4 separate regions of the Homo sapiens genome follow, and regions 2, 3 and 4 are each linked to region 1. Evidence: fine-mapped expression QTL. A gene starts in region 1. Each other region holds a variant in brackets. All regions are shown on one strand. Distances are between the middles of the regions.

Region 1 (8,080 bases):
CTGTGTCTGCATGCTGTATGTATTACCAGACTGTGAAAAGGAGAACATTATTGAATAGGAAACACTGGGTGGGCTGGGCACGGTGGCTCACGCCTGTAATCCCAGTACTTTGGGAGGCCAAGGCGAGCGGATCACCAGGTCAAGAGATGGCCAACATGGTGAAACCTTGTCTCTCCTAAAAAATACTAAGAATTATCTGGGCCTGGTGGTGCACGCCTGTAGTCCCAGCTACTCGGGAGGTTGAGGCAGGAGAATTGCTTGAACCCGGGAGGCGGAAGTTGCAGGGAGGGCTGAGATAGCACCACTGCACTGCAGTCTGACAACAGCAAGACTCCATCTCAAAAAAAAAAAAAAAAAAAGACGCTGGGTGATGGATGAGGGGCTGGGAAAATGTTAAATCTGCCTTAATGAGATTTATGCTGCCTCTGTCCTTAGCCTGATAATCCCTGTGAAGAATTGTGTAGCCTCCCTGGCTTCTACCCATTACATGCCAGGAGAACCTCTGCCACACACACTCTGCCCCTCCTTGTGACAACCAAAGGCCCCTGAGTGGTGGGGATCAGGTATTTTTGATTGAGAACCACTAACCTGAAATTCTCAAACCTTAGCACAGATAGAGGTCACCTGGATGGTTTGTTAAACCACGGATTGCTGAAATCCTGCCCTCAGACTGATCCAGTAGGTCTGAGTTTCTAGCAGGTTTTCAGGTGACACTGGTACTGGTGTAGGTGAGATGGGGACCACCCTGGAGACCTGCTCCTGGTGGTAACGACAGATGCCTTTGGTGAATCCCTGAGCCTAGAGCAGCTGTTTAATAGGACAAGGGAGTGCTCCTCAAATGGCCTGGCTGGCAGAGACTTGAAAGAAAGTGATCAAAGGAGCTTTGGGGCATTGGGTTGTGCCACTACTGTGTAGTGCAGGAGAGACATTTGGTTCTTAGGATCTGGCATTTTATCTCTCAATGGACTGTAACTAGTCATGTTTCATGAATGAAATAGGTGCTCCATCTGAATGGTTCTGTCGCTAGAGGGAACTAAGATTCAAACAGGCCAGTTTGCCAAGTCTGCTAGGTACCACACTTGCACTTGGGAACCAGAGGGGGCGGGGTGGCGGGAAGGGGCCAAAAGTAGGATTGGTGAGTAACTGGAAAAAACTTTGGGCTAGGTTACTAGGAAACTTTTTTTTTTTTTTTTTGAGACAGAGGCTTGCTCTGTTGCCCAGGCTGGAGTGCAGTGGCACGATCTCGGCTCACTGCAAGCTCCGCCTCCCGGGTTCACGCCATTCTCCTGCCTCAGCCTCCCGAGTAGCTGGGACTACAGGCGCCTGCCACCATGCCCGGCTAATATTTTTGTATTTCTAGTAGAGACGGGGTTTCACCGTGTTAGCCAGGATGGTCTGGATCTCCTGACCTTGTGATCGTTCTACCTCAGCCTCCCAAAGTGCTGGAATACAGGCGTGAGCCACCGCGCCCAGCCACTTTTTTTTAAGATGGAGTTTTGCTCTTTCACCCACCCAGTCCGGAGCGAGGTGGCACTATCGGCTCACTGCAACTTCTGCCCCGCCCCGGGGTTCAAGCGATTCTCCTGCCTCAGCCTCCCAAGTAGCTAGGACTACAGGAGTGTGCTACCACACCCAGCTAATTTTTGTATTTTTAGAAGAGATGGGGTTTCACTATGTTGGCCAGGATGGTCTTGAACTTCTGATCTCATGATCCACCCACCTTGGCGTCCCAAAGTGCTGGGATTACAGGTGTGAGCCACTGCACCCAGCCAGGAAACTTTTTAATTGAATCTTCACACACTTAAGTATTAAGGCATCTCTATTGAGACAGACTTCTATTAAGTAGCTTGCCTACTCAGGGTCACAGAAATGGGGCTGAATTTAAAACTTTTGAGGAAAAATACAGCAAATTTTTTTCCACTCTACCTCAAGGCCCAAGTGTAAATACTGTTCCTACCAGGTTTGGATCCATGCTTTGATTCCTAGCCCTGTGACCTTGGGCAAGTTTCTAATGCTCTGTGCCTCAATTTTCTCATCTGTAAAGTGAAGAAAATAGAACCAACTTCATGGCATTGTTTTGAAGAGTTAATTCATGTAAGGCACAAGCGTGTTGGGCAGACGATAGCTCTCCTTGCTGGCCACTGTTAACAGTTTTGTGAACTTTTTTCTTTTTTTTTTTTTTGAGCCAGAGTCTCGCTCTGTCACCCAGCTGGAGTGCAGTGGCACGATCTCGGCTCACTGCAAGCTCCGCCTCCCGGGTTCAAGCGATTCCCCCGTCTCAGCCTCCCGAGTAGCTGGGACTACAGGCGCATGCCACCACGCCCGGCTAATTTTTGTATTTTTAGTAGAGACAGGGTTTCCCCATGTTGGTCAGGCTGGTCTCAAACTCCTGACCTCAAGTGATTCACCGCCTCAGCCTCCCAAAGTGCTGGGATTACAGGCGTGAGCCACTGCACCCAGCCTTTTTTTTTTTTTTTTTTTTTTTTTTAAGAGACAAGATTCACTGTGTTGCCCAGGCTGGCCTCGAACTCCTGGGCTCAAGCAGTCCTCCTGCCTCAACCTGCTGGAACTATAGGCACATGTTACCAGTGGGCCCAGCTGCTGGGATTGGCACTTTTTTTTTTTTTTTAGTCAGAATCTCACTCTGTTGCCCAGGCTGGAGTGCAGTGGTGTGATCCGGCCCGGCTAATTTTTTGTATTTTAGTAGGGACAGGGTTTCACCATGGTGGCCAGGATGGTCTCGTGATCCACCCGCCTGGACCTCCCAAAGTGCTGGGATTACAAGGCATGAGCCACTGCGCCTGGCAGTTTTGTGAACTTGAACTGTGGACTTTATCTGTCCTGATTGTGTTTCTCATTCATTCAGCAATTATTATTTTTTGAGATGGAGTTTCGCTCTTGTCACTCAGGCTGGAGTGCAACAGCGCGATCTTGGCTCAATGCAACCTCTGCCTCCCAGGTTCCAGCTATTCTCCTGCCTCGGCCTCCCAAGTAGCTGGGATTACAGGAATACACCACCACACCCGGATAATTTTTGTATTTTTTTAGTAAAGACGGGGTTTCACCACGTTGGCCAGGCTGGTGTCTAACTTGGGATCTCAGGTGATCTGCCCACCTGGGCCTCCCAAAGTGCTGGGATTACAGGTGTGAGCCACCGCACCCGGCAGTTTTGTGAACTTGAACTATGGGCGTTATCTGTCCTGACTGTGTTTCTCATTCATTCAGCAATTATTGTTTTATTTATTTTTTGAGATGGAGTTTCACTCTTGTCACCCAGGCTGGAGTGCAATGGCACCATCTCAGCTCAATGCAACCTCTGCCTCCGGGTTCCAGCTATTCTCCTGCCTCGGCCTCCCAAGTAGCTGGGATTACAGGAATGCACCTCCACGCCCGGCTAATTTTTGTATTTTTTTAGTAAAGGTGGGGTTTCACCATGTTGGCCAGGCTGGTCTCTAACTCCTGACCTCAGGTGATCTGCCCGCCTGGGCCTCCCAGAATGCTGGGATTACAGGTGTGAGCCGCCGCACCCAGCTCATTCAGCAATTATTTTATCAATGTTCAATGTGCCCAGCATTATTCTAGGCTCTAGGGAAATAATCCATTGACAAAGCAGGGTCTACCAATGGGCTTGTCGGAGATTGCTGGGAATGGTTGATGGGGGCCAGTTTGCAGTTGGGGTGAGGTGGCTTTCCTTGAGGCAGCCTGGCTGAGTGAAGTCGACTTTGCTGACCAAGAAGGCTCCTCCCAGGGGTGGGGAAGCCTCGGCAGGGGGCGGCATGTGAGCGCCAGAAGGCAGGGATTTCACGGAAATGAAAGTGGAAGCAAACAGCCTGCGAGCAGAGCCTCCTGAGGTGTATTTCGGGTCTTGCTGGGGCTGAGAGAGACCACAGCCCTTTGGGGGGTACAAACAAGAGTTCAGTTGCTGTGAATTCTGCCACTGTGCCCAGCTCTGAAGCCTCAGCTCTTGCCAAACAGACCCGAGACCCATGTCAGCCCCACTGGATGCCGTAAGTGAGGAGGAGGGAGTTGGGAAGTGGGGAAACAGGAGTAATCCTCTTGGCTAGGAACCTGCAGATATCTCAGGGCCTGGCAGCCAAGCCTCACCCTGCCCATCTCAGACCTGCTGAAGGGCTGGGGAGAAACACAGGGCTGGGGTTGCCTCTGCAAGAGTTGGTTCCCTAACCTATTGCCTCAGACAGGAGGAGCTCATTAAATCCTGTGTGTGTACACTTCTCTGGAGAGAGAATCTGTAGTTTCCATCAGATACTCAGCGGGTTCTGTGACCCAAATAACAATTGTTCTAGGCCGGGCGTGGTGTCTCACGCCTGTCATCCTAGCACTTTGGGAGGCCTTGGCAATACAGTGAAAATCCGTCTCTACTAAAATACAAAAAATTAGCTGTGTGTGGTGGTGTGCGCCTGTAATCCCAGCTACTTGGGAGGCTGAGACAGGAGAATCACTTGAACCTGGGAGGCGGAGGTTGCAGTGAGCCGAGATTGCATCACTGCACTCCAGCCTGGGTGACACAGCGAGACTCTGTCTAAAAAAAAAAAAAAAAAAATTAAACTAAAGGAATTAGGCTGGGTGTGTTGGCTCACACCTGTAATCCCAGCCAGCACTTTGGGAGGCTGAGGCGTGTGGATCACTTGAGGTTAGGAGTTCGAGACCAGCCTGGCCAACATAGCAAAACCCCATCTCTACTAAAAACACAAAAATTAGCCAGGCATGGTGGCACACACCTGTAATCCCAGCTACTAGGGAGACTGAGGCGGGAGAATTGCTTGAACCTGGGAGGCAGAGGTTGCAGTGAGCCGAGATTGTACCACTATGCTCCACTCTGGGCAACAGAGGGAGACTGTCTCTCACACACACACACACACAAAATTTATATATATATATATATATATATATACTATAAGAATTATACTTTAAGAATCACACTAGGTAATCCATAGATTAACACGGTAAAAACTTATCCCACTGCTTAGCACCTACAGAGCATTCAATATGTGTTTCTTCTTAATATTATTATTGCCAACCTTTTCAGAACCCCAGTTCCCCAAGGACAATCCCTTTTTTTTTTTTTTTTTTGAGACGGAGTCTCACTCTGTCTCCTAGGCTGGAGTACAGTGGCATGATCTCGGCTCACTGCAACCTCTGCCTCCCGGGTTCAAGCGATTCTCCTGCCTCAGCCTCCCAAGTAACTGGGAGTACAGGCACGTTCCACCATGCCTGGCTAATTTTTTGTATTTTTAGTAGAAATGGAGTTTCACCGTGTTAGCCGGGATGGTCTTGATCTTCTGACCTCGTGATCTGCCCCCCTCAAGCTCCCAAAGTGCTGGGATTACAGGTGTAAGCCACCATGCCCGGACTTTTCTTTCCTTTTTTTTTTTTTTTTTTTTTTGAGATGGAGTTTCACTCTTGTTGCCCAGGCTGAAGTGCAATAGCATGATCTTGGCTCACTGCAACCTCTGCCTTCCAGATTCAAGTGATTCTCTTGCCTCAGCATCCCAAGTAGCTGGGATTATAGGCACACATGCCACCACGCCTGGCTCATTTTTTTTTTTTTTTTTTTTTTTTGAGATGGAGTCTCGCTCTGTCACCCAGGCTGGAGTGCAGTGGCAGGATCTCGGCTCACAGCAAGCTCCGCCCCATGGGTTCATGCCATTCTCTTGCTTCAGCCTCCCAAGTAGCTGGGACTACAGGCACCCGCCACCACGCCCAGCTAGTTTTTTGTATTTTTGGTAGAGATGGGGTTGCACTGTGTTAGGCAGGATGGTCTCGAACTCCTGACCTCGTGATCCGCCTGCCTCAGCCTCCCAAAGTGCTGGGATTACAGGCGTGAGCCACCGTGCCCAGCATGGCTAATTTTTTGTAGAGACAGGGTTTCAGCATGTTGGCCAGGCTGGTCTCGAACTCCTGACCTCACATGATCTGCCTCCCTTAGCCTCCCAAAATGCTGAGATTACAGGCTTGAGCCACAGCACCCGGCTTTATATACGTTAAATTGGGCCATCTTTTTCAAATAAAAATCCAGATTTTTTGTTTTTTGGAGACAAGATCTCACTGTTTTTTCCAGGCTGCAGTGCAGTGGCTGGATCATGGCTCACTGCAGCCACCTCCACCTCTAGGGATCAATAGATCCTTCCATCTCAGCCTCCCGAGTAGCTGGGACTACAGGCATGTGCCACCATGCCTGGCTAATTTTTAAATATTTTGTAGAGGTAGAGTTTTGTCCTGTTGCCCAGGCTGGTCTCAGACTCCTGGGCTCAAGCGATCTGCCTCCCTTGGCCTCCCAAAGTGCTGGGATTACAGGCATGTGCCACAACAACCTGCCCAGATTTTTTATTTCTATTAAAAATGGGAAGATTAGGGGGCCTGGGTCCGTGGCTCCTGCCTGTAATCCCAGCACTTTGTGAGGCTGAGTTGGGCAGATCACTTCAGGTGGGAAGTTTGAGACCAGCCTGGCCAACATGGTGAAACCCCATCTCTACTAAAAATAAAAAATTAGAGCCGGGCACGGTGGCTCACTCCTGTAATCCCAGCACTTTGGGAGGCCGAGGTGGGTGGATCACGAGGTCAAGAGATTGAGACCATCCTGGCCAACATGGTGAAACCCCATCTCTACTAAAAATACAAAAATTAGCTGGGCATGGTGGTGCGTGCCTGTAGTCCCAGCTACTCGGGAGGCTGAGGCAGGAGAATCGCTTGAACCCGGGAGTCAGAGGTCGCAGTGAGCCGAGATCCTGCCACTGCATTCCAGCCTGGCGACAGAGCGAGACTCTGTCTCAAAATAAATAAATAAATAAAAAATAAAAAAAATTAGCCAGGAGTGGTGGCAGGTGCCTGTAATCCCAGCTACTTGGGAGGCTGAGGCAGGAGAATCTGTTGAATCCGGGAGGTGGAGTTTGCAGCGAGCCGATATTGCGCCACTGCACTCCAGCCTAGGCAACAGAGGGAGACTCCGTCTCAGAAAAGAAAAAAAAATAGAGGGCTGGGCGCGGTGTCTCACACCTGTAATCCCAGCACTTTGGGAGGCTAAGACGGGCAGATCATGAAGTCAGGAGATCGAGACCATCCTGGCTAACACGGTGAAACCCCGTCTCTACTAAAAATACAAAAAAATTAGCCAGGCGTGGTGGCGGGCACCTGTAGTCCCAGCTAATCGGGAGGCTGAGGCAGGAGAATGAAGTGAACTGGGAGGCGAAGCTTGCAGTGAGCAGAGATCGCGCCACTGCACTCCAGCCTGGGCGACAGGGTGAGACTCCGTCCCAAAAAGAAGAAAAAAAAAAAATAGCTGGCATGATGGCACACGCCTGTACTCAGGAGGCTGAGATGAGAGGATTGATTGATTCCAGGAGGTCGAGGCTGCAGTGAGCCATAATGGAGCAATTGCACTCCAGCCTGGGTGGCATTGAGACTTTGTCTCAAAAAACAAAACAAAACAAAAACATGGGTAGATTTGCTGTGGGGGGAAACTTTGTTATGGCTAGAAGCAGTTTACTTTAGAAAGGACATGCTCTTCCCAGTGCGTCAGAGTCCCCACCACTCTCTGTTATCCTACATGGCTCTATTAACTCATTAATGTCATCCAACTGGCCCTTAAAGGCACTGTGTTAGCACTCTCTGAGTTACAGAAATATGAATAACTAATGATCTTTTTCACTATTCATAAACCAGCATAATTTGGTCAAGCTCTAGTATTCTTCTGCTAAAAATAGAACAAACTCACACTGAATTTCTTTGGTGTCCTCTGTAATGTGCTCCTTTACCGTCATTCATTCACTTCATTTCTTCATTCAACACAGTTTTACCGGACACATATTTTGTGCCGGAGATCTTGCTGGACACAAGGAATACAGAGATGGTCAGAACAGAGTCCTATCTTTCCAAGAGATCTCATGCTTCTCTGAGCTGAACTTCTTTATCAGGATTCCTAACCACAGGGTGAACTCTGCTCTATTCCACAAACAAAGGTGCATTTATTGGTATCCCTGGTGTCACTTCCCTGCCTGTGATGTCAGTTCTCTCTCTGGACCCATTCCAGATCACACCCAGCCTAAAAGGTTACTTGGTGTAC
Region 2 (8,080 bases), 210 kb before region 1:
CCTATCTCTACAAAAAATTTAAAAAATTAGCCGTGTGTGGCGGCACATGCCTGTCATCCCAACTACTTGGGAGGCTGAGGTGGGAGGATCACTTGAGCCTGGGAGGTCAAGGCTGCAGTGAGCTTTGATCACGCCACTGCACTCCAGCCTGGAAGACAGAGTGAACTTTGTCTCAAAAAAAAACAAAAACAAAAAAACAAAAAGGCACAGTGTAACGTGACAGTAGGCTTTATGAAAATCATCTGCCATGGGATGTGGAAGGGGGAAGGGAAAATACCTGGGAGGTAGACCCAGGAAGCCATCTGTGGACAAAGGAGAGAGTGGCTTATGGGAGGGAAGAGGAGAAAGGGTGAATCTGAGGGTTGTTTCGGGAAAATAAGTTACTCTGTAATCCAGTAACCTATTGACGTAGTAGAGAACATAGTACATAGTAGATGCTCAATAAATATTTGCTGAGTTGATATGATTGGGAGTTAGGGAGAAGGGATGTCAAGGACAACTTGTAGGCCACCAAAGGAGAGTAGGAGAGTAGGCCACCAAAGGAGAGAGGAAATTAGAAATGAAAGAAGGTTTTTTTTAAGGAGGTCATGATGAGCTTGAGTGAAGAAGGGACAGCCAAGACAAGACCCTCCATAGCCATGGATATGGGTCAGGCAGGGCTGGAGAGATGTGGATGGAGGAGTAGTCAGTACAGAGTTGAGAGTGAAGGGAGATGAGCCGGCAAAGCCAGAGACACAGAGGGTTGCAGAGTGTGTCTCAGCGCATACCACCAGTTCTGGAGTGGGAAGCGGGAGGGTAGGTCATCGAAGGACACAGAGACAAAGCCAGAGACGTAGGAGGATGTTAGTCAAAACTGAGTGAGGAGAGAGTTTCAAGGAGGTGGCATAGGATGAATCCTCAGGCAAGACCACACTGGCTTTTGTTAGGAGATCTTTGTGGGAGACCAGTTTCAGTGGAGTGGGGGTGGTGGATGCCAGCCCATGGGGTGAAGGAGGGAAAGGAATGGGAGAAACACCAGGCATCAGGAGCCCTCTCTAAAGCATCTCCTCCATCATGTCATTCACCTTGTGTCCAGGACAAAGACACAATATCACCTGGCACACAAGGCTCATCACCTTCCGTCAAACCACTTGACTCTTTCAGAGTCTTCCATCCAGCCACACTGGTTTCAAAATGGGCCTCTGAAAAGGCTGGGTGCCTTCCTGCCTCTGCCTCCACCTCCTTAAGGGTCTCTCACTCGTAGAGCCTTCTGTATTGGGCTTTCAAGTCCCCTCTGATCCTGCACAGCCAAAGTGACCCCACCCCATGCACCCAGAGTCCTTTGCCCTCTTTTCTCTCCTTACCCAGTCCACCCTCCACTCCTCTGCAGCAGAATTCTCCTGAGACTTGGATCTGATCTCTTGATATTCACCCGAAATTATTTAGTGGCTACTTGTGGTTGTAGAGTAAGGTCCAAATTCCAAAGCCTTTAAAATTCACAGCACATTCAGCTACACTTGAGTCCTCACTATTTTAAGAATAGGCTGTGCCGGGCATGGTGGCTCACGCCTGTAATCCCAGCACTTTGGGAGGCCGAGGCAGGCAGATGACCTGAGGTCGGGAGTTCAAGACCAGCCTGACCAACATGGAGAAACCCCGTCTCTACTAAAAAATACAAAATTAGCTGGGCGTGGTGGCGCATGCCTGTAATCCCAGCTACTTGGGAGGCTGAGGCAGGAGAATCACTTGAACCCAGGAGGTGGAGGTTGCGGTGAGCCACGGTCATACCATTGCACTCCAGCCTGGGCAACAAGAGCGAAACTCTGTCTCAAAAAAAAAAAAAGAAGAAAGAAAGAAAGATTGAATAGGCCGGGCGCAGTGGCTCACACTTGTAATCCCAGCACTTTTGGGAGGCTGAGGCAGGTAGATCACTTGAGGTCAGGAGTTCGAGACCAGCCTGGCCAACATGAAGCCCTGTCTCTACTAAAAATATAAAAATTAGCTGGGCATGGTGCCAGGCAGTCCCAGCTACTCAAGAGGCTGATGCAGGAGAATCTCTTGAACCCAGAAGGTGAGGTTGCAGTGAGCCAAGATTGTGCCACTGCACTCCAGCCTGGGTGATAGAGCAAGGCTCAGTCTCAAAAAAAAAAAAAAATAATAATGTACCATGCCTTTCATGCTTCAAAGCTACTACACTGTTCTCTCTGCCTAGACTGCTCTTCTCTTCCTGATGAACAGCCTGGAATAGAGGAAGGGGTCGCTTTCATGTAATACCTAAGTTCAAACTTCAGCTCTGTTATTTACTAATCCAATGAACTTAGGCAAGTTTCTTAACTCTGTAAACTTCAGTTGCATGTAAGTAAAATGCAGATGATAGTATTTGTTTTGCAAAGATGTTCTGATACGACACAGTGTAATGTAGAAGTGTCCACACATGGTAGGTCCTCAATAGAGATTGCTTTTCTCATCTGTCAATGTTCAGCTCCAAAGACTTACTCTGTGAAACTGCTCCAGCTTCCCCCTATCCCCAGGGTGGTATTCTGTCTTTGGAATAGCATTTTAAAAAATTGTGATTAAAAAACCATAAATATAAAATTTACCACCGTAACCATTTTTAAGTGTACAGTTCAGCAATATTAAGTATATTCACATTGCTGTGAAACAGATCTCCAGGGGTTTTCTTACCTTGCAAATCTGAAACTCTGTACCCATTAAACAACTCTGCCTCTCCACACCCCCATCCCCCCAACCCTGGAACAACATTTCTATCTATATCTCACTTGTAAGTGCCTTACGTATTACGGGCTGCCTTGCAGTAAGTTTAATTACGTATTTATGTGTCTCCTCCACTAAGTTTTGGGCTTCGTTAAGCCTAGGACCTTGTTTCATGCTTCCTTGTATTCCCACAGTACCCAGCACAATGCCAGCACATAGTAGGTGCTCAATAAGTATTCATGGATTTGAATGTGACATTTGCCATTTATTGCCTTATTCTGACTTAACCGTGTGGGATGGGTGTATGTGGGCCTGTGTGTTATACTTTATAAACACTATGGGGCAGAAATTGTGTCCAAAACATGGGAGGCAGCAGTGAAGATAACTCAGGCTCTGGCTTTAGGTAGATGTGGGTTTAAATCCTGTGACCTTAGGCAGACGGAACTTAACCTCTTTGAGCATTGGTTATCTTAATTCTACCATAGCAATATTAATGTGGGCCCCAGAAAGTTACTGGTGGTGTTAAATGTGATAATATACGCAAAGCAGCTGGTATATATACGCATCCTATGAATGTTAGCACCTTTCCTTCTAGGCTGTATTTCTCCTTACACCACACAGTGCCTGGAACACAATAGGTATTTACTTGTTTTAGGTTGGTGGTTGGCAGGAGCAGTAGTGTGAAGGGTGGATTTTTTATTTTTATTTTTTTGAGACGGAGTCTCGCTCAGTCGTCCAGGCTGGAGTGCGGTGGTGTGATCTTGGCTCCACCGTTTCCCAGGTTCAAGTGATTCTCCCGTCTTAGCCTCCCAAGTAGCTGGGATTACAGGTGCCCGCCATCATGCCCAGCTAATTTTTGTATTTTAGTAGAGATAGGGTATCACCATGTTGGCCAGGCTGGTCTTAAACTCCTGACTTCAGGTGATCCGCCCGCCTCGGCCTCCCAAAGTGCTAGGATTACAGGCGTGAGCCACCGCGCCCAGCCTGATGTTTTAAGATCAGAAGCAGGGGGAGAGGGATGAGTGAGATAACAAGCTCTCCCTCCCCATCCTGTTGACCCTCGCAAGGTATATAACGAGTTCATTCTGCCTTCGGAGCGAGATGGATTTCTCAGACGGATTCGGGAGATTATCCAGCGAGTGGAGACCCTGTTGAAGAGAGACACTGGCCCCATGGAGGCTGCTGAAGACACCCTAAGCCCCCAGGTCAGACCCCTTGGTGGACACTTCCAGGGGAAATGGACTCTCTGCTCCAGGGTTTATTACTCTCTGCCCT[C/T]AGCGGTCCCCTTGGATTTAACTCCTCTTCATCTCTGGGACCCTAAAACAGTGGCGCTTTTTTTTTTTTTTGAGATGGAGTCTCACTCTGTCGCCCAGGCTGGAGTGCAGTGGCACGATCTCGGCTCACTGCAAGCTCCGCCTCCCGGGTTCACGCCATTCTCCTGTCCCAGCCTCCCGAGTAGCTGGGACTACAGGCGCTCGCCACCACACCCGGCTAATTTTTTTTGTATTTTTAGTAGAGACAGGGTTTCACCGTGTTAGCCAGGCTGGTCTCGATCTCCTGACCTCGTGATCCGCCCTCCTCGGCCTCCCAAAGTGCTGGGATTACAGGTGTGAGCCACCGTGCCTGGCCTAAAACAGTGGCTCTTAGCCCATTTGAGAATATGATGAAAGCCATGGACTCTTGTTCTAGAAAACTTGTTCAATACATACTTTTCTTTTAACTCATTATTTTGAAATAATTTCAGACTTGTGGAGAGAAGTTGCAAGAATTATATAAAGAACCACTGGATACCCTTTGCCCAGATTTGCCACTTGTTAGTGTTTTGCCACCTTAGCGTCATCATTGTCTCTTCCTCTCCCCTCTGTATGTGTGCATACATAATATATTTTTCGGAACCACTTAAGAGTAAGTTGCAGACATCATGCCCTTTTACCTCTATACATTTCAGCACATATGCTTCTGAATCCCTTGAAACTCATGTACAGACTCCTATAGGTTCATGGGTCCTAGCTTAGGAACCCCGGTCTGACACCTTCCATCTCAGACTGCTCTTCCCCACTGTGACTGCGGACTCCTTTTTCTGCCTCAGGAGGAGCCAGCACCATTACCTGCCCTGCCCGTCCCCCTCCCAGACCCATCCAATGGTATGTACTGAGTTGTGTCCTTGCTCATCCCAACCCCTGGGGTTGCTCCTGGGAAGGGCATAGGGCATGTGGGACTGTGGTCTCAACATACCCTCCTTCCCAGAAGAGCTCCAGAGCAGCACCTCCCTGGAGCACAGGAGCTGGACAGCCTTCTCCACCTCCTCATCTTCTCCTGGAACTCCTTTGTCTCCTGGAAACCCATTTTCCCCTGGAACCCCCATTTCCCCAGGTCCCATCTTCCCCATCACTTCTCCCCCATGTCATCCCAGCCCCTCCCCATTCTCCCCCATTTCTTCCCAGGTCTCCTCAAATCCCTCTCCACACCCCACCAGCTCTCCACTTCCATTCTCCTCCAGCACACCCGAGTTTCCGGTCCCACTCTCTCAGTGTCCCTGGAGTTCTCTCCCCACGACTTCTCCACCTACGTTCTCTCCCACTTGTTCTCAGGTCACTCTTAGTTCCCCTTTCTTTCCTCCGTGCCCCTCCACTTCTTCCTTCCCCTCCACCACAGCAGCCCCTCTCCTTTCTCTGGCTAGTGCCTTCTCACTGGCTGTGATGACTGTGGCCCAGTCCCTGCTGTCCCCCTCACCTGGGCTCCTTTCCCAGTCTCCTCCAGCCCCTCCTAGTCCCCTCCCTAGCCTGCCCCTTCCCCCTCCCGTTGCTCCTGGTGGCCAGGAAAGCCCTTCACCCCACACAGCTGAGGTGGAGAGTGAGGTGAGTAGAAAACCAAGAGGGATGATTAGGGAGACTCCACTCTGCACTCTTCCCTTCTCATGGCCCCCCACTTTCTAGGCCTCACCACCTCCTGCTCGGCCCCTCCCAGGGGAAGCCAGGCTGGCGCCCATCTCTGAAGGTAAGGCCTCTGACCACTGACCTTCCCCTGCCATTATCCCTACTCACTGTCTGTCCTGTCACTGCTCTCCTTTCCTCATGCCTTCTTCCTCGTCGCCCTACAGAGGGAAAGCCGCAGCTTGTTGGGCGTTTCCAAGTGACTTCATCCAAGGAACCGGCTGAGCCTCTTCCCTTGCAGCCAACATCCCCCACTCTCTCTGGTTCTCCAAAACCTTCAACCCCTCAGCTCACTTCAGAGAGCTCAGATACAGAGGACAGTGCTGGAGGCGGGCCAGAGACCAGGGAAGCTCTGGCTGAGAGCGACCGTGCAGCTGAGGGTCTGGGGGCTGGAGTTGAGGAGGAAGGAGATGATGGGAAGGAACCCCAAGTTGGGGGCAGCCCCCAACCCCTGAGCCATCCCAGCCCAGTGTGGATGAACTACTCCTACAGCAGCCTGTGTTTGAGCAGCGAGGAGTCAGAAAGCAGTGGGGAAGATGAGGAGTTCTGGGCTGAGCTGCAGAGTCTTCGGCAGAAGTGAGTCTCGGGAGGATGGAGGAGTGAGAGGAGAACCTGGGAGAGCAAGGTGTGTGGCTAGCCCTTTCATGCCCTCCGTGCATCCTCAGGCACTTGTCAGAGGTGGAAACACTACAGACACTACAGAAAAAAGAAATTGAAGATTTGTACAGCCGGCTGGGGAAGCAGCCCCCACCGGGTATTGTGGCCCCAGCTGCTATGCTGTCCAGCCGCCAGCGCCGCCTCTCCAAGGGCAGCTTCCCCACCTCCCGCCGCAACAGCCTACAGCGCTCTGAGCCCCCAGGCCCTGGTGAGACTGCAGTCACCCAGCTTCCATCTTTTCCCTGAGACCCCTTTCTGTCGACTGTTTTTCTCCAGGCCCTGGGGGTCTGCCCCGGGGGAATAGACCCCCTCTCCCCACCTCCCCTTTCCTCACTTAGTGCTCTCCTTCCCCCATCCTGCTCCCAGGCATCATGCGAAGGAACTCTCTGAGTGGCAGCAGCACCGGCTCCCAGGAGCAGCGGGCAAGCAAGGGGGTGACATTCGCCGGGGATGTTGGCAGGATGGTGAGGGCGGGCCCAAGGGAGGGAGAGCCCAGGGAATGGTACCTGGCTGCAGCTTCGCCTTCCTCCCACCTTGGAGGTTTCTTCATCACTTTTTCTTTTCCCTCCAGTGAATTCAGAACAGAAGCCATGTATCTCCCCCACACCAGGGCCCACCATGGAGCTTGTGTTCTCAGAATCTGATGCTTTCTGATCAACAAAACTGAGCAAGGAAGATCCCAACACTGAAGGGGTAGAAGGCCAGGGGGGCATGGAGAGTGCAGCTCCATTATAGTGAAGAGCCAAACATATGTGAACTGTTTGCTGTGTGGAGGTGTTAGTTCTGCTGCCTACCATCTTCATCTCTAGCACCTCCCCTGCCAAGAGTCAACCACTAAGCAATCCCACCCAAGCCTGGATGCTTCTAGAGGGGCCCACTCCCAGCTGGGAGAGTGTAGGGGATATGCTCACACCACATTAGCAGCAACCAATAAAAATGCTGGAAACAAGAACGCCGTGAATCCATATGCCATGCCTTAGGAATTGGGGGAGCAAAGACTTGTGGGGTGAGGCAGGGGAGGATTTAAAAGGGACTTTCTTTTCACAATGGGAGGCAGGGGTGGAAGCTGCCCAGCCCTCTGGCTTCCTGCCATCAGTTAATGAGGAAACTGCAAGGTCAGTGATCCACTTGACTAAGTTAGGATCCCCTCCAGACCCCACCCTAGACCTGTATAGGCAGGTACCAGGGAAAGTTAAAAGAATGAAGACTGCTTGTCTTTCACCCTTCATCCACCTCTCTCTCCCTCCCTCTCTCTGGGGATGGGAAAAGCAGTAGAGTTACAGTATGTTCTTGTGGGTAGAGGACAGAAGAGTGACCTTCCTTCCCCTAAGACGTGGGTTCAGTCTCAAACTGCCCAGTGATCTCTCCCTTAAATCAGGTGGAAAGATCTCATGGAAAAAGTAATTCTAGTTAAACATTTACAGCTCCCTGGGGCAATGCCACCACTGCAGCTACTGCTTGTGAAGCTTTCCAGCATGAAGTGCCATATGCTGCCTCTCAGCCTCCATACTCACTTGACTCCAGGAGAATGACTCAGTTTATTATTCTCAATTTGACCCTATGTATCCCACTGTAGGCTCAAACACTGCACAGAGCTGCCACGTCTAACCTCGTAACAACTGCGTCCCTGGAAGGTGAAGGGGGTAAACCACAAAGTCAGAAACTTTGGGAAAAGCCACGGTCGCATGCACACCTCTCAAACAAGGAAACAAACTACAAGAAAGGGCTCAGTCATTGTACACAGCAAGTGTGCAGTGGGCAAAGTTCTGTTCTTTTGACATTGGCCAAATGCGTAA
Region 3 (8,080 bases), 740 kb before region 1:
ATTTAATGTAAATTTAATTAAGGCAGAACATAAATCTCTGGTATTAGGAATGACTTATACCCAAGAGAAAATATCTTTCACTAGAGATTTCCTTTACCAGATATTCCCAAATGAGTACCATAATAAACATTTAGAGAAGTCATTAAGTGTGACTAATGGAATTATAAGAAAAAGAAATCCATAGCCTAGCAGCCTTCATAGGTATCACCATGAAGGGGAAAAGCCAATGCAGAAAATATATTGAAATAATACAAAGTTCAGGGTTAAAACAAACTCAACCATTTTTTTCAAAACATCTTCAATATGAAATGAATAACTTAGCAGAGTGTGTATATATATGTGTGTATATATATACATATATGTATATATATACACATATATATGTGTGTATATATACACACATATATATGTGTATATATACACACATATATATGTATATACACACATATATGTGTGTGTATATATACACATATATATGTGTGTATATATATGTGTATATATATGTGTGTATATATATATGTATATATATGTGTGTGTGTGTGTGTGTGTGTGTGTGTATATATATATATATATATATATATATATATATATATATATATATAAAAAAACAAAAACAATTTTTTTTTTTTTTTAAAGAGAGACAGGGTCTCTGTCCATTGCCCGGGCTTGGGAGTGCAATGGCACCATTATAGCTCACTGCAGCCTCCACTTCCCAGGTTCAAGCAATCCTTTCACCTCTGTCTCCCTAACAATTTATTATATTATATAACAATATAATTCTCCATAAGCTTCTGTGTAAAAATATACAGGCTACCACGAAGCACAGGAAATAACACAGTCCTGAAGTTCAAATTATTTAAACTCTAAAAATGTTAAATGAAATTATGATGATTTTAACATAGTTCAACAAAAGATGTCAAAAAACAGGATACTATACCAAAAAATTAACAAAAACATCACAAACTCTTTTTTCTGCTTCTAAAAAGAAAACACTGATAACAAAAAACAAATTCTACGTTCTAAGACATATCAATACACACAGCCATTTTAAAGATAACTTTTTTTTCCTGATTACAAAAGGATTCCCTGTATTATCATCTGTTTTTTTGTTTGTTTTTATTTGTTGTTTTTGAGACAAGGTCTCACTCTGTCACCCAGGACGAATGCAGTGGCTCAATCACAGCTCATTGCAGCCTCGAACTCCCAGGCTCAAGTGATCCTCCTACTTCATCTTCCCAAGTAGTTGAGACCACAGGCATGTGCCACCAGGCCCAGCTAATTTTTTAATTTTTTGTAGAGATAGGGTCTTGCTATGTTGCCCAGGCTGATCTTGAACTCCTGGACTCAAGTGATCCTCCCACCTCAGCCTCCCAAAGTGCTGGAAATATAGGCATGAGTCACTGTGCCCAGCCATAATCTGTTTATTATAGAAAAATGGAAAGATACTAGAAAGCGCGCACACACACACACACACACACACACACACACACACACACAGGGAACTCCACGACCCAGAAGAAATCTTTTTTCAGCGCCTGTTCTTTTTTCCAGGCACAATTGTATATGATTGTTTGTAATTTCATTTTTCATTTAGTAATATATAGTGAATTTTGTGTAGGTCATTAAATATTGTTTTATAACATAATTTAAATAGCTGGACAGTATTCTATTGGACAGCTATACACAGGTGTAATAAATGATTTAGTTTATTAAACCTCTAATGGAAATACCAAGATTTTTCCAATTTATTGCTATTTTAAGTAACACTCCTTTTGTACAAATCTTTTTTTTTTAATTTATTTATTATTATACTTTAAGTTTTAGGGTACATGTGCACATTGTGCAGGTTAGTTACATACGTATACATGTGCCATGCTGGTGTGCTGCACCCACTAACTCGTCATCTGGCATTAGGTATATCTCCCAATGCTATCCCTCCCCCCTCCCCCCACCCCACAACAGTCCCCAGAGTGTGATGTTCCCCTTCCTGTGTCCATGTGTTCCCATTATTCAATTCCCACCTATGAGTGAGAATATGTGGTGTTTGGTTTTTTGTTCTTGCGATAGTTTACTGAGAATGATGATTTCCAATTTCATCCATGTCCCTACAAAGGACATGAACTCATCATTTTTTATGGCTGCATAGTATTCCATGGTGTGTATGTGCCACATTTTCTTAATCCAGTCTATCGTTGTTGGACATCTGGGTTGGTTCCAAGTCTTTGCTATTGTGAATACTGCCGCAATAAACATACGTGTGCATGTGTCTTTATAGCAGCATGATTTATAGTCCTTTGGGTATATACCCAGTAATGGGATGGCTGGGTCAAATGGTATTTCTAGTTCTAGATCCCTGAGGAATCGCCACACTGACTTCCACAATGGTTGAACTAGTTTACAGTCCCATCAACAGTGTAAAAGTGTTCCTATTTCTCCACATCCTCTCCAGCACCTGTTGTTTCCTGACTTTTTAATGATTGCCATTCTAACTGGTGTGAGATGGTATCTCATTGTGGTTTTGATTTGCATTTCTCTGATGGCCAGTGATGGTGAGCATTTTTTCATGTGTTTTTTGGCTGCATAAATGTCTTCTTTTGAGAAGTGTCTGTTCATGTCCTTCGCCCACTTTTTGATGGGGTTGTTTGTTTTTTTCTTGTAAATTTGTTTGAGTTCATTGTAGATTCTGGATATTAGCCCTTTGTCAGATGAGTAGGTTGCGAAAATTTTCTCCCATTTTGTAGGTTGCCTGTTCACTCTGATGGTAGTTTCTTTTGCTGTGCAGAAGCTCTTTAGTCTAATTAGATCCCATTTGTCAATTTTGTCTTTTGTTGCCATCGCTTTTGGTGTTTTAGACATGAAGTCCTTGCCCATGCCTATTTGTACAAATCTTTAAACATATTTCAGATGTCCTAGAATGAAATTCATCTAAATGAAACTGCTAAGTCAAAGGGTATGTACTCTTCTTTTTTTTTTTTGAGACGAAGTCTCGCTCTGTCACCAGGCTGGAGTGCAGTAGTGTGATCTCGGCTCACAGCAACCTCTGACTCCCTGCCTCAGCCTCCCGAGTAGCTGGGATTACAGGCACGTGCCACCATGCCCAGCTAATTTTTGTATTTTTAGTAGAGACGGGGTTTCACCATGTTGGCCGGGATGGTCTTGAACTCCTGACCTCGTGATCCGACTGCCTTAGCTTCCCAAAGTGCTGGGATTACAGGCCTGAGCTCCCATGCCCAGCTTGAGTATGCACTCTTTTAAGCTCTCAATACATGTATCAAACTGCCATCCAAAAAAAGCACCCATTTACATTTCAACCAATGAGTATGAAAGTGCCAGTTTCCCACATTCCCAAGCAACACTGCTCTTATTTTTCAATATTTTTAGTCTTCATAAATCTGTTAACTGAAAAAACTTGTCATTTTTATTTGCATTTCTTGATTTCCAGTATGGGTGAACACTGTTTCATATGATTATCGGCTATTTGTAGTTCTTCTTTTGTTCATTTTCTATTATGGGAATCATCTTTTTCTTACTACTTATATAGATTACTTATATATTACGAATATTTACCCATAATGCTTTGTCATATATATTAGAAATATTTTTCTTATTTTGTCACTTAGCTTTGGTTTCTGGCATTTTTTGGCATAAAGAAGTTTTAAATATTTATGTATACATATAAAAAGACATATGTGTATCTATAAGATGTATCTTCTTTTATTAGTTATTAAAGCCACTTATATCCTGTTCAAATTTACCAATAAAACTGGAATGTAATGTTAAGTTCTGTGCAAACTAGACCTCTTCACATTTGGGTAATAAAAATTCAAAACTAGCCAGGCTCAGGGGCTCACACCTGCAGTCCCATCTACTCTGGAGGCTGAGGTGGGAGGATCACTTGAGCTCAGGACTTTGAGACCAGCCCGGGCAACATAGTGAGACCCCACTCTTTAAAAAATAATAATAATAAATTAAAATAATAAATAAAATTCAAAACCATAAATTTTGAGAATATCACATTTTTGGACAAAATTTTAAATGTGTGTCTAAAGTAATACGTTTTCTTACTTAAGGACCCACTCCTGGCACACTTCACTCATCCTGGGCAACAGAGCAAGACACTGTCTCAAAAAATAAAAAAAAAAAAAAAAAAATCATTCCCTTAAAATTATATGCTTTTTGGCCCGGTGCAGTGACTCATTCCTGTAATCCCAATACTGTGGAAGGTTGAGGTGGGAGGTGTGGAGGTGGAGGTGGGAGGGATCACCTGGAGACATAGCAAGACCCCTGTCTCTATTTTTTTTTAACTATGTGCATTTTTCTGGTATTGCAAAGTCAAGGGATCTTGCCTCATCACCAACTCAGCATGTGAATTGTAGCCATGCCACTCAGGAAGCCAAATATTTTCTATTTTGTTTTGATACCTTCAACATGAGGAGAAAGGCCAATCTCTTCATACATTACAATGAAATTAGTATTTTTACTTGATATTTAAACTCACTGCAAGATAAACTCATTTGTAAAACATGACTACACTCAGAGTTTCCATATATGTAGTCAGGCACCACATAATGACGTTTCAGTCAATGACAGACCACATATATCACTGTGGTCCCATAAGATAATAAAACGTAGCTGAAAAATTCCTATCCTCTAGTGACGCTGTAGCCATCATAATGTTGTAATGCAATGCATGACTCACATGTTTGTGGCAATGCTGGTGTAAACAAACCCACTGCACTGCCAGTCATGTGAAAGTCTAGCACATACAATTGCGTGCAGTACATACTTGATAATGATAATAAATGCCTATGTTACTGGTTTATGTATTTACCATACTTTTTATCGTTATTTTAGAGTGTACT[CCTT/C]CTACTTAAAAAAAAAAGTTAACTGTAAAACAGCCTCAGGCAGGTCCTTCAGGAGGCATTGTTATCACAAGAGATGACAGCTCCATATGTGTTACTGCCCCTGAAGACCTTTCAGTGGAACAAGATGTGGAGGTGCAAGACAGTGATACTGATGACCCTGACCCTGTGTAGGCCTAGACTAATGTGTGTGTTTATGCCTTCACTTTTAAGAAAAAGTTTTTAAAGTTTTGAAAAATTAAAAAGTTTTTAAAGTTTTGAAAAATTAAAAATTATTTAAAAAGAGAAAAAGTAAAAGAATAAAAACATAAAGAAAATATTGTTGCACAGCTGTACATGTTTATGTGTTAAGCTAAGTGTTACTACAAAAGAGTTTAAAAGTGTAAAAAAGTAAACAGTTGGCCGGGCACGGCGGCTCACACCTATAATCCGAGCACTTTGGGAGGTCAAAGTGGGTGGATCACCTGAGGTCAGAAGTTTGAGACCAGCCTGGCCAACATGGTGAAACCCCGTCTCTACTAAAAATACAAAAATTAGCCAGGCGTGGTGGCACACGCCTGTAATCCCAGCTATTCGGGAGGCTGAGGAAGGAGAATTGCTTGAACCGGGAGGTAGAGGTTGCAGTGATCCGAGATCACGCCACTGCACTCCAGCCTGGGCCACAAGAGCAAGACTCCATCTCAAAAAAAAAAAAAAAAAGTAAAAAGTTTACAAAGTAAAAGTATTACAGTAGGCTAAGGTTATTATTGAAGAAAGAAACAATTTTCAAAATACATTTAATGTAGCCTAACCAGACAGTATTTTTAAAATCTACAGTAATGTACAGTAATGTCCTAGGCCTTCACATTCACTCACCATTCACCCACTGAGTTGCCCAGAGCAACTTCCAGTCCTGCAAGCTCCATTCCTGTTAAGTACCCTATATAGATGTACCATTTTTTATCCTTTATGCCATGTTTTTACTGTAACTTTTCTATATTTAGATATGTTTAGATACACAAATACTTACCCTTGTGTTACAATTGTCTACAGTACTCAATACAGTATACATGTTCCACAGGTTTGTAGTCTAGGAGCAATAGGCTTTATCATACAGCCTAGGTGTGCAGTAGGGCTCACCATCTACGTTTGTGTAAGTACCCTCTATGATGGTACCACAATGACAAAATCGCCTAATGCATTTCTTAGAACTTTGTCACCATGTATCATTAAGTGACAAACGACTATAGTTACGTAACAATAACCAAAGAAAAATACAAAAAGAGGGACTATTTACATTGTATCCTTACATATTAAACCTTCCATGCCTTCGGAATAAGAATCTAGTATCCAGTTCTCACTATACATAGCTTTCCCTCACTTTCTATCAGAAATGAGATAGGAGTCCCACCTTCCTGGCATCAGAAACAGATCACCAATCCTGCAAACAAATTCACAGGGTGAACTGTTTCATTTTTAAAGAGCTGTAGATTTCTGTAGATCTCTAATTTGCTACTTTTCCTAAACCTAAAAGATGACCAAAAGATTTTTAGAAACATTAAACAAAAAAACAGAATTAGCATTATTTCTAACAGAACATTTTACCTATTTAAATATACTGTAGAATGAATGCTATATTACAAAGCTGATGAATTCCAATTTTTAGTACTTTAAGAGATCAAGTGTTCAAGTTTCTTTTTATATAGGCTACAATGACATGTATGAATGTAACTTAACATTTAGCCCAGGTTAGATTTTTTAAAATCCCACTCCTTCAAAAACAGTGACTTGCCACCAGCTATAGGCTCTGAATTTATTTAATTTATTTATTTTTTTGAGATGGAGTCTCGCTCCGTCTCCCAGGCTGGAGCACAGTAGTGCGATCTCGGCTCACTGTAACCTCTGCCTCCTGGGTTCAAGTGATTCTTCTGCCTCAGCCTCCTGAGTAGCTGGGATTACAGGCGTGCACCACCACACCTGGCTAATTTTTGTATTTTTAGTAGAGACAGGGTTTCACCATGTTGGCCAGGCTGGTCTCCAACTCCTGACCTCACGTGATCCGCTTGCCTCGGCCTCCCAAATTGTTAGGATTACAGGCGTGAGCCACTGGGCCCGACCTAGGCTCTGAATTTTAGACAACAAAAAATAGTTTCTCACAAACTTTTTAACTTACTCTCACCTAAAGGCTGGAAAACCCCAGTGAAGGCTTTTAAAACTCATCAGACATAGAAAAAAAGAAGCAGCTTTAATTGTAGGATCTCACTGACACAAACATAAGGAAATTCTGAGTTATAGATACCTCACATTAAGCTTTTTCCACTGACATTGTAACTTCTGTCAACATTCAAAGAAAATTCAACCCTGGTCAAAGGTGACAGTTGACAATCCTGGAAGCTAACATCCTCTGTTTATTTGAACAAGTTTATACTCTGCACAGGGAATTGAAGTTCTTCTTGTCTGTGACTTGATCTCCCAAAGTTAAAGCACTACGCTTTAGGGTTGTGAATTCTGTTTCCAAGACTTAACTTCACAATCCACTCCCAAGGAAAAGTGCTGAGAGAAAGTAAGCATCATAAATGAAAAAAAAAAAAAAATCTGAGACTATTTTCTAATGGCCTTTGCAGAGCTCTAGACATACAATAGTTCAGTTGCCTTAAAAATTCGCCCAAATAGGCTGGGCATGGTGGCTTATGCCTGTAATCCCAGCACTTCGGAAGGCCAAGGCAGGAGGATCACCTGAGGTCAGGAGTTCGAGACCAGCCTGGCCAACATGTCAAAACCCCGTCTCTACTAAAAATACAAAAATTAGCTGGGCATGGTGGCACATGCCTGTAGTCCTAGCTACTCCGGAGGCTGGGCAGGAGAATCTCTTGAACCCAGGAGACGGAGGTTGCAGTGAGCCAAGATCGCGCCACTGCATTCCAGCCTGGGTGACAGAGCGAGGCTCTGTCTCAAGAAATAATAATAATAAATTAGCCCAAATAAGTAAAATTCTTAAATCTGTCTCAGAAATCATGACTAATGCTCTAAAAAGCTTTAATGCAACAAGAATAGGACAGAAATCCCCGCAAAATAAAGTTGTAAATAAAATGAGTGGGATTGTTGAGTTCTCAGTACAGACGTGCATGTCAACACAAACCCACTACATTGGCACAAATGATCCCTTTGTTTGTAAACAGAGGCCAAGGAGACAGCTTATAGCTCTTCTTCTATGATGTACACGGTAATGCTAGGGGAAG
Region 4 (5,000 bases), 510 kb before region 1:
CCCAAGTGCCTTGAGGAGCCACATACTTTTCCCTGCGCTGCTTATTTCTGAGGTGGTTAATAATATCGACTCTGGGAAGATTGATTTTTCAAGACTCCTTCCCATTTCTTAATTTATTTCTGCTTACTTAGTTTGGTTTTTTATTTTTAGCAGACATTTTAGCAAAGCAGAAATATATTTTTCCTGTGGATTTTAGACTTGCATTCTTATATTTACGAACTTACAAAAACTTATCCGAGAATTAATTTTTTTTTCAAATGCTTAGGCAAATTAAGTATGATCAAGTCTTCTTTATTGTGTGCTGTAAAAATGGAGTGGCGGCAAGAATGTAATACAGGGCATCTGACTGCTGAGGAAAAAAAAAAATAATACAGGCTGGGCGAGGTGGCTCATGCCTGTAATCCCAGCACTTTGGGACACAGAGTCAGGTGGATCACTTGAGGTCAGGAGTTCGAGACCAGCCTGGTCAACATGGTGAAACCCCATCTCTACTAAAAATACAGAAATTAGCTGGGCACGGTGGCATATGCCTGTAGTCCCAGCTACAGGAGGCTGTGGAAGAATTGCTTGCGCCCGGGAGGAGGAGGTTGCAGTGAGCCCAGATCGTGCCACTGCACTCCAGCCTGGGGGACATAGCAAGACTCCATCTCAAAAAAATAGATGGAATGACAGCACCACAGGGCTACAATCAGCGAAACATAGACTGTGGGAAAATATATAAGATAAACAACCCAATTTCTTCAAAAGAAATTTTGTAATGAATGAAAAAGGAAAGATGGAAGGAGAACCTGTAGTTTAGAGACTCAAGAGATATATCTACAATCATAATGTATAAGCCAGGCACGGTGGCTCACGCCTGTAATCCCAGCACTTTGGGAGGCCGAGGCAGACAGATGACTTGCGGTCAGGAAATTCCAGACCAGCCAGGGCAACATAGTGAAACCCCATCTCTACCAGAAGTATAAAAATTGGCCGGGTGTGGTGGTGCACGCCTGTAGTCCTAAGGCAGGAGGCTAAGGCAGGAGAACAGCTTGAACCTGGGAGGCAGAGGTTGCAGTGAGCCAAGATCACGTAACTGCACTCCGGCCTGGGTGACAGAGTGAAGACCCTGTCTCAAAAAAAAAAAAAAAAAAAAATGGTTTGGACACAGATCAGAGAAATTTGAATATTGACTATATATTTTATGATATTAAAGAATCATTGTTAGCTGGGCACGGTGGCTCACACCTGTAATCCCAGCACTTTGGGAGGCCGAGGCTGGTGGATCACGAGGTCAGGAGTTCAAGACCTGCCTGGCCAAGATGGTGAAATCCCATCTCTACTAAAAATACAAAAAAAATTAGCCAGGCGTGGTGGCGAGCACCTGTAATTCCAGCTACTCGGGAAGTTGAGGCAGAGAATTGCTTGAACCCAGGAGGCAGAGGTTGTAGCGAGCCGAGATCATGCCACTGCACTCCAGCCTGGGCGACAGAGTAAGACTCCATCTAAAAGAAAAAAAAAAAAAAGAAATCATTGTTAATGCATTTACGTGTGATGACAATATTGTGGTCATGTTTTAAAAATAAGTCCTGGCCGGGCGCGGTGGCTCACGCCTGTAATCCCAGCAATTTGGGAGGCCAAGGCGGGCGGATCATGAGGTCAAGAGATCGAGACCTTCCTGGCTAACATGGTGAAAACCCCACCTTGCAATAGGCCGAGATTTCACCACTGCACTCCAGCCTGGGTGACAGAGCGAGAGTTCATCTCAAAAAAAAAAGAAAAAAAAAAAAAGCCTTACTGGCCGGGCGCAGTGACTCAAGCCTGTAATCCAAGCAGTTTGGGAGGCCGAGGCAAGCCTCAGGCCAGACCTGAGGTCAGGAGTTTGAGACCAGCCTGGCCAACATGGTGAAACCCCATCTCTACTAAAAATACAAAATTAGCTGGGCATCGTGGCCTGTGCCTGTAATCCCAGCTACCTGGGAGGCTGAGGCAAGGCAGGAGGTGGAAGTTGCAGTCAGCGAGATCATGAACACTGCACTCCATCCTGGGCAAAAAGAGCGAAATTCCATCTCAATAAATAAATAAATAAATAAATAAGTCTTTTCCTTTTAGACATCCACACTGAAATATTTACAGGTAAAATGACATGATATCTGGACTTTTTAGTAATGTGGAGATGAGTGAGTGGCAGTAATCTTTTTTCATGACTATAAGGTGATGTTAATTTTTGAAGCATTCTCCTCAAAAGCAAGATTAAAAAAAAAAATTTTGTCGAAGCAGAGTGATAGGTGCCTGGGAGTTTGTTGTACCATCCTGTCTGCTTAAGTATCTGTTTAGAATTTTCCATAATAAATAATATTGATTAATAAATAAAAATTGTCGACCGGGCGCGGTGGCTCACGCCTGTAATCCCAGCACTTTGGGAGGCTGAGGCGGGCGAATCACGAGGTCATGAATCGAGACCATCCTGGCTAACACGGTGAAACCCTGTCTCTACTAAAAATACAAAAAAATAGCTGGGCGTGGTGGCAGGCACCTGTAGTCCCAGCTACTTGGGAGGCTGAGGCAGGAGAATGGCGTGAACCCGGAAGGCAGAGCTTGCAGTGAGCTGAGATCACGCCACTGCACTCCAGCCTGGG[T/C]GACAGAGCGAGACTCGTCTCTAAATAAATAAATAAATAAAAATTGTTTTTTAAACAGAGGAATATTTTTCCCTTTGAGAATTCTTTATAATACCTATTTGTTTTCTCGGGTTATGACAGATTTGGAACATTGCTACCAATAAACTGACGTTCTTGAACTCCTTTAAGATGAAGATGTCTGTTATCCTTGGTATCATCCATATGCTGTTTGGAGTCAGCCTGAGTCTGTTCAACCATATGTGAGTTGTTCCATTTCTGTCATAAGAATGTGCATAGTTTAGAGAATGCTTTTGTGTAAAGAAATCATGACATCTTTGGGGAGGGATTAATAACTCAGAACCTCATTCTACATTATAGAAGTGCTTTTCTAAAAATTTAATGGTGTGGCCAGGCGCGGTGGATCATGCCTGTAATCCCAGTACTTTGGGAGGCCAAGGCCGGTGGATCACCTGAGGTCAGGAGTTCGAAACCAGCCTGGCCAACACGATGAAACCCCGTCTCTACTAAAAATACAAAAATCAGCCAGGTGTAGTGGCACGCGCCTATATTCCCAGCTATTCGGGAGGCTGAGGCAGGAGAATTGCTTGAACCTGGGAGGCAGAGGTCGCAGTGAGACAAGATGGCACCACTGCACTCCAGCCTGAGCGACAGAGTGAGACTCTGCCTCAAAAAAAATAAATAAATAAATAAATTTCATGGTCTGGCCGGGTGCAGTGGCTTACACTTGTAATCCAGCACTTTGGGAAGATGAGGCGGGCAGATCACTTGAGGTCAGGAGTTCAAGACCAGCCTGGCCCACATGGTGAAACTCCGTCTCTACTAAAAATACAAAAAATTAGCCGGGTGTGGTGGCGTGCACCTGTAATCCCAGCTACTCTGGTGGCTGAGGCAGGAGAATTGCTTGAACCCAGGAGGCAGAGGTTGCAGTAAACCAAGATAACACCACTGCACTCCAGTCGGGGTGACAGAGCAAGACTCCATCTCAAAAAAAAAAAAAATGTTGATGGTCTTAAATTAGACTTAATATTAGTCCTTTAACAATTTACTGTTCCAGTAAAGATCCTTGAAAAAAACTTGAGCAATTTTCATCAAAATAAGTGAGGTCTCTTTTTTTCCTTGATGTGCAACTCACATAAAATTATTAGCTGTGGACTGGGTGTGGGGGCTCACACCTGTAATGCCAGCACTTTGGGAGGCCAAGGCAGGCGGATCACTTGAGCCCAAGAGTTCAAGACAAGCCTGGGTAACACGGCAAAAGACCCCATCTCTACAAAAAAAAAAAAAAAAAAAAGTTATGAACTGTGGTCTCAAAATGTACTAGATTTTTCCATTCTCTTTCTCATGGAGAGAATGGTGGGGATGGTATTGGAGCCGTTCAAGGTTCAAAAGTTTAAGGCCTGGCACAATGGCTCACATCTGTCATCCTGCACTTTGGGAGGCCAAGGCGGGCAGATCACCTGATGTCAGGAGTTCAAGACCAGTCTGGGCAACATGGCAAAACCCCATCTCTACAAAAAAATGTAAAAATTAGCTGGGTGTGGTGGCGCATGCCTGTAGTCCCAGCTACTCGAGAGGCTGAGGTAAGAGGATTGCCTAAGCCCAGGGAGGTTAAGACTGCGGTGAGCCAATATTGCACCACTGTACTCCAGGCTGGGTAGCAGAGTGAGACCCTGTCTCAAAAAAGAAAAAGCAACAGCAAAACAAAACCAAGGTTCAAAAGTTTGACCGTGATAGTTAATCCTGCATTGTCTCTGTTGTCTCCAGCTTCTGGTTGCTGCTGCTTAAAGTGATAAAGACAGAATTGAGGGGGTATTAAGTAGAAAAATCTAGTGAATACTCCATTCAGTGTAGGAGTGGCCCTAGGCCCATTTACCCTTAACATTTTTTTCTCTCTCCTTTTTAGCTATTTCAAGAAGCCCCTGAATATCTACTTTGGATTTATTCCTGAAATAATCTTCATGACCTCTTTGTTTGGCTATTTGGTTATCCTTATTTTTTACAAGTGGACGGCCTATGATGCTCATACCTCTGAGAATGCACCAAGCCTTCTGATCCATTTCATAAACATGTTCCTCTTTTCCTACCCAGAGTCTGGTTATTCAATGTTGTATTCTGGACAGGTACGTCAGCCCAGAGGCAGACTGTCTGAGATGATTATACTTGATCAGGAAGCCAGATGTTTCTCTGACCCTAAAAAATTTATAACTGCCCTTCTATGGGACAATTCTAGGGCTTTGCCACAAAATGTGATAATTATTTTGAGAAATTGGATAGTGTTATTCATAGATTAGTAAGAAAGTACTGTTGGGGGAAATTTGTGCCATATTTGGAAACTGCGTATGTGATCGGTAGACTTTTATATGATGTACCTTGTCCTTCTTC

Which allele goes with the higher level. Positions count from the first base shown, and alleles are read on the strand shown. Sizes are in standard deviations (SD) of each study's normalised expression. Not every link is listed here.
For the expression in prostate of the gene that starts at base 3,823 in region 1, allele CCTT in region 3 goes with a higher level than allele C (large effect, 1.2 SD a copy in GTEx).

What was found. PIP is the estimated chance that this variant, and not a neighbour inherited with it, causes the effect.
Region 2: its variant is the best candidate, but not a certain one, in a credible set for the expression of IFI35 in tibial nerve (GTEx, PIP 0.60).
Region 3: its variant is the best candidate, but not a certain one, in a credible set for the expression of IFI35 in prostate (GTEx, PIP 0.51).
Region 4: its variant is the best candidate, but not a certain one, in a credible set for the expression of IFI35 in lung (TOPMed, PIP 0.80).

Annotation. Positions count from the first base shown.
Region 1 is chr17:43,002,962-43,011,041 of GRCh38, forward strand. IFI35 (interferon induced protein 35) reads left to right here and starts at 3,823. Exons shown (of 7, transcript NM_001330230.2): 1 at 3,823-4,007. The coding sequence starts at 3,987. RefSeq lists an enhancer at 3,683-3,992.
Region 2 is chr17:42,789,831-42,797,910 of GRCh38, forward strand. WNK4 (WNK lysine deficient protein kinase 4) reads left to right here. Exons shown (of 19, transcript NM_032387.5): 12 at 3,762-3,899; 13 at 4,784-4,838; 14 at 4,942-5,552; 15 at 5,631-5,691; 16 at 5,795-6,203; 17 at 6,293-6,492; 18 at 6,651-6,748; 19 at 6,856-7,236. The coding sequence ends at 6,858. COA3 (cytochrome c oxidase assembly factor 3) reads right to left here. Exons shown (of 2, transcript NM_001040431.3): 2 at 7,795-8,080. Among named protein-coding and RNA genes, the nearest start is that of COA3, 4.8 kb to the right of the region's middle. The variant C/T (reference allele first, on the strand shown) is at 3,970.
Region 3 is chr17:42,262,415-42,270,494 of GRCh38, forward strand. All of the region lies in intron 1 of STAT5B (signal transducer and activator of transcription 5B), which reads right to left. Among named protein-coding and RNA genes, the nearest start is that of STAT5B, 9.9 kb to the right of the region's middle. The variant CCTT/C (reference allele first, on the strand shown) is at 4,863.
Region 4 is chr17:42,496,186-42,501,185 of GRCh38, forward strand. ATP6V0A1 (ATPase H+ transporting V0 subunit a1) reads left to right here. Exons shown (of 22, transcript NM_001130021.3): 15 at 2,739-2,857; 16 at 4,522-4,738. Among named protein-coding and RNA genes, the nearest start is that of MIR548AT, 3.9 kb to the left of the region's middle. The variant T/C (reference allele first, on the strand shown) is at 2,619.